Regions from separate parts of the Homo sapiens genome. Here region 2 is linked to region 1. A link means that fine-mapping ties the variant in region 1 to the expression of a gene that starts in the linked region. Tissue or cell type: sun-exposed skin. Region 1 holds a variant in brackets; the other region holds the start of a gene. All regions are shown on one strand. Distances are between the middles of the regions.

Region 1 (2,500 bases):
AAGGCCAGCCAGGGTGGCCCTGCTGGCTCATGTGCAGCCGCCTTCTCCTCCACAGCCTGTGAGCTGGGCTTCTACAAGTCAGCCCCTGGGGACCAGCTGTGTGCCCGCTGCCCTCCCCACAGCCACTCCGCAGCTCCAGCCGCCCAAGCCTGCCACTGTGACCTCAGCTACTACCGTGCAGCCCTGGACCCGCCGTCCTCAGCCTGCACCCGTGAGTACCACTCCGAGATGCCAGTACCCTTGAGCCCAAGACTGGGCCGGGCCCCTGTGTTTGGTCCTCCAGGCCTCAGAGAGCCAGTTCTCTGCTGGTGGGGCAGGGGCGGGTGGCTCTCTTGAGCCAGAGGCCAGTCTGAGGTGGGGGGGGTGACTCTGATCCCTCCACGGTGGCCTAGACCTCTCTGGGCTCCCAGCCTCTGTCCTGTGTCACCTACACTGGAGGGCAGAATGGAGCTGGCCTCACTTCTTTCCCCACATCGGGCAGTTTTTGTCATCTTCTGATCTAGCAGCGATGCCGATGTCCTGGGGGCCAGGTGGGCAAGCCAGGGTGCTCGCCTGTGCGGAGAGGGTGAGGGTTAGGGCAGCAACCCTTCCATCACCATCATCTTTGATGAACTTGTTGGAACTGCTGAATGCTGAGAGCTGCCTTACATGTGTATGGTGTGTGTGCATATGTGTGTGTACCCATGGAGTTCGAATATCTGATTCTGTGTATGCCCTGGGGCCCTGCAGTGATTGTGTGTTAGCGTGTGTCTGTGTGAGCAGCTGCTCTTACAGACGACGCCTGTATCGTGTTTGGATGCCTGCATGTAAATGTGTGACGTGTAGTTGAGCTCACATATATAAAGGATTCGTCACATATATTAAGGATTCTTAGGAGGAGGTGTGTGTGTGTGTACATCTGGGTACCTGAAGGGGACTCAGAAGTCCTTGTAAAGCTTGAATGAGGGTGTCTTGTGAGCTCAGCACGTGTGTGTGTGCGTGTGCACACCTGGCCCTGCAAGGGTGCATGTGCCTGGAGAGGGTGTGGCTGCATGTGCACGTGCCCTGTGGACCTGAAGGTATGGG[G/A]GGATTCTGCACCCATGCCTGCAGGGCTGCGTGACTGTCCTACCTTCTGCTGATGCAGCGCCTGGATTCTCTCCTCTCATGTGTCCTAACGGGCCACTCATACTCCCATTCCAGGCCTGGGGAGGGACCACAGCCTGCTCAGCCCAGCCCAGTTGCCAACCCTGGGCTCTTGTGGTAGGGCAAGAGGCACTTCAGACTGTTCTGATTTTGCTCTGAATCTGCCCAAGCATCAGCCCCCATCTCCCGCTCCCATACATCCATCACCACCCAGCCCCAGCCTCCCTGCACATGGCAGGCGAGGGCCCAGGTGCATTCATGCCCACATGCTTGTGCACATACACACAGACACACACACCCACCCTCCCTCCACTGCCCTGCCCAGATCTGTGCATTTTCCACATGTGGGACCTGTTGGGGCAGAAAAGGTGGCCAGGTGACAGCGTGGGCACCTCAGGCAAGTCGAGTCTGGCCCCAGGTCATGGACACTTGCGTGAAGCTGGCTGGACTCTGGTTTCTTTCCAAACCCACAGTTCAGTGCCTTTAGGTTCTGGAAAGCTTAAGATCGTAAAGGCTGAGCTTTTAGTATTCTATACCCTTCCGATGTTAAAAATTCTCTTCTCTTCAAATTGTAAGATTCTGATTCCAAGATCTTACAATTCTATTTTCTGAAGATTTAAGATTCTCTGCCTGGAATTCTGAGAACTGGAATTCTGAGGCCAGGGGTCCCCACAGACCCCCATGCCCTCTTGGCTCAAACCCCCACCCCAGCCCCTCAGACCCCCAGCCCCACGTCCTGGTCTCCTCAACCAAGGGGTCACCCCTCTCTCTCCAAAGTCTTTGTGCTGCCCAGACAGAGGCTCCCATGCCCGGGGTTGGGGAGCGGCTGCTTGGTGCACACAGCCATGGGGATACACGGTGGGCTTCTGGGGGCCTCCACTTAATTCCACAGTGCGTGCTCAGTGGCATTTTGTATCGGATCCGGCACAGAAGGGTCAAGGAATAGATGTGGCTGCAAATACCTGGGTCACTTACACACAGGGTGGCTGCTGTGGGCACCCCCGGGACTGTGCGGTCTCTCTCCCACTCTGGGTGAGCAGTGGGATGTCCAGACCCTTGGATCATGGTGGTCCTGATGGGTGGGGGGGATGGGGTCCCAGGGTTCTGTGCCCAGACTCTGACATTGTGGTCCCGGTCTGATGGCAGAGACACAAACTCTGCCCTTGGGGAGGCTACAGAGGATGGAGTAGATGTGGACCTTATCCTTAAGGAGCCCTAAATATGATGGGGAGCCCTTCCCTTGGGGAGCCCCAGGTCTGATGATAGGAAGACAGGACAGCCCAAATAAATAACCACTGCCCCATCTGTCATCCTCTGCCCTCAGGGCCACCCTCGGCACCAGTGAACCTGATCTCCAGTGTGAATGGGACATCAGTGA
Region 2 (2,500 bases), 24 kb before region 1:
TATAAAGCCCCTAGAGCAGGGTCTGACTCAGGGCACATGTTCCCCAAATGGCCTTTCTCATCCTATGTAACTTCCAGCCATGGCTCCAATTCTCCTCACCCCCCAGTGACCATGAGAGCTGGGAACGAAGGAAGAGGGGACTGGACGATGGTCTGTGCCAGGCGGCAGTGGGAAGCAATCAGGCACTTGCTCCCGTGGGCATCCACCCTCTCAGGAGGCTGCAGGTCTCTTGCCTGCTTCTCGGACTGCTTGGCCCACCAGGTGTGTGAGGGACTTGAGGGTGGCAGAGCAGGCCCCAGGATGCAGCCCTATATCCCTGTCCTCCCCTCACAGCCCAAAGCCATCCCTGGATGAGACCCCTAGTCCTGGGGGATGGAACTGGAGACAGGGAAGGTCAGGGGAGGGAAAAGCAGGGAATGATAGTCCCCCTCACTGGATAACAGCTCCCATGACCGGCCACCTGGCTGTGTGCCCGGCCGTCTGCCAGGAGTTCCACCTGGGCCCTTTCACGCCACCCTAGGATATCGATACTGGTATTCTTGTTTTACAGACATGAAGTTTTAGACTCAGAGAGCTTAAGAAACTTGCCTAAGGCCACACAGCAGGACACTTGTCTTCCTGGTCCCTGAGCCTGCCCTCCTGACCACTGCAATCTAAGGCCTCCTTAAAATCCCGTGGTCCCTAAATGCCAAGTTGTTGGGGTGGGGAAAGGGAGAGAGTTTTGGTTTTGGTGTTTTTTTGGTTTTTCACCTAAAAGTGCCTCTGAGTTTGCCGCTGAGCCCATCTCTGAGCCTCTGCCCATGAACTAGTGTGTATCCATCGGAGTGTGTCACCACGCGAAGCACTCGGTGTTGGGGTCATGCGGGCAGGAGCGAGCATGCGGTGGATGTGCGGCCCGCGCGTGTGTCCACAGAGGGAATCCCTGGGTGGGTCTGGTCCTGGTGTCGCCGGGACGTCCCGATGGTGGCTTCGCGCACTGGGGCCCTGAGCCCTGAGTCCAAGTGCGCAGCGCGGGGCGCGCCCCCGAAGGTGCCCGCCGGGGGAGTGTGGGCGTGCGCACGTGCGGCGGCGGTGGCCGCGGGCCGGGTGGCCGCGGTGCGGGCTCCGTGTCCCCCACCCCCCCGCCTCGGTGCTGATTGGCTCGGCGCCGTGACGGGCCGGCCCCCGCCCGGGGCGGCGGCGGCGGCGGCGGGCGCGGGTGCCCGCGTGTGCGCTGGGAGCCGCGTGTGCGCCGGGGTGTGCGCCCGGCCGGGTGTGCGGAGAGCGAGGGAGCGCGCTCCCTCCCGACGCGCGGGCCGCAGCGGCCAAGCCCGAGGGTGCGTGGCGCCCCCGCCCGCCCGGCCCGGCCCGGCCATGGCCCCCGCCCGGGGCCGCCTGCCCCCTGCGCTCTGGGTCGTCACGGCCGCGGCGGCGGCGGCCACCTGCGTGTCCGCGGCGCGCGGCGAAGGTGAGCGGCGGCGGCGGGGCGGGGCAGGGGCGGCCGAGGGGCGCGGGGCGCGGCGCGCGCTGCCTGCGGCTCAACTTCCTTTGCATGGACCCTGAGCTCCAAGGCGGCCGGGATCCCTCGGCCCGGGGGGCGGGGTGGCACCGCGGAAGAGACCCGGGATTAAGGGACAGAGCGGTGGAGATGGGAACCCGCGAGCTTGAGGAAGACGGACAGGTACCGGGGACTGGGGGACAGTGGGAAAGGACAGGAGACAGGACTGAGGGATGTGCAGCTGGGGACAGAATACTGAGGGTCGGACGCCGGGGACAAGGGGACAGGACTGGACAGAAGACAAGAGAAGAGGTAAGGAGGAGAGGGTACAGTGAGGTAGGGCAAGGAACAGGGTTGGGGACAGAGGACAGGGGGGTAGGCACTGGGGTTGGAGGGACAGGAGAATGGGGGAGGAGGTTCAGAGGGCAGAAGGCAAAGGGGGTGGGGACAGCATTGAGAGATAGGAGCCAGGCGCTGAGAAACGGGACCCCGGAGAGCAGGACTGGCTTTGAGGGGAGGCAGGAAGGAGGGGTGCGGAATGAGAGTCTGGGAGAGGGGTCAGGGCCCGAGGGCCACAGTCTGGCGACGGGCTGGGGAGAAGAAGGGAGGGCAGGGGAGTTCCAGCTGGAGGAGAGGCAGCTTCGTGGGCAGCGGGAGCGGCTTGGGGAGGAGAGGGCTGGGGGATGGGGAGGCCACAGAGAGATTGAGGCAGGCAGGCCCCGGAGAGCAAAGTCTTGTCAGAGAAGGCTGGGATGGCAGGGTCACTCTGGGGCCCTGTGTGGGAGGAAGGATTGGGGTGGGGAGGTGCACTGAGTCGTTGGGACCAAAAAGGTCTGGGAAATGACTTCTGGTGGTGGGGGCACAAGAAGAGCTGAGAGGGAGCACCTAAGCCTGCCACCCACACACCCGTTAGCTCCCTGGAGACCCCAGCTCCATCCAGCTCAGGAGGTTTCCCTGGGTCCCACTCCCCACACCCCAACCCCTGCCCTGACCCTCCTCTGTTCCCACAGCTCTGCCCCAAGG

Alleles and levels. Alleles are on the strand shown, and positions count from the first base shown. SD is a standard deviation of normalised expression in the study named.
In carriers of allele G in region 1, the expression in sun-exposed skin of the gene that starts at base 1,207 in region 2 tends to be lower than with A alone (small effect, 0.38 SD a copy in GTEx).

What was found. PIP is the estimated chance that this variant, and not a neighbour inherited with it, causes the effect. A credible set is the group of variants that fine-mapping cannot tell apart.
Region 2: it holds the start of EPHA8, and the variant in region 1 is the best candidate, but not a certain one, in a credible set for the expression of EPHA8 in sun-exposed skin (GTEx, PIP 0.83).

Annotation. Positions count from the first base shown.
Region 1 is chr1:22,586,425-22,588,924 of GRCh38, forward strand. EPHA8 (EPH receptor A8) reads left to right here. Exons shown (of 17, transcript NM_020526.5): 4 at 56-211; 5 at 2,447-2,500. Among named protein-coding and RNA genes, the nearest start is that of EPHA8, 24 kb to the left of the region's middle. The variant G/A (reference allele first, on the strand shown) is at 1,066.
Region 2 is chr1:22,562,283-22,564,782 of GRCh38, forward strand. EPHA8 (EPH receptor A8) reads left to right here and starts at 1,207. Exons shown (of 17, transcript NM_020526.5): 1 at 1,207-1,447. The coding sequence starts at 1,354. RefSeq lists an enhancer at 1,745-2,245.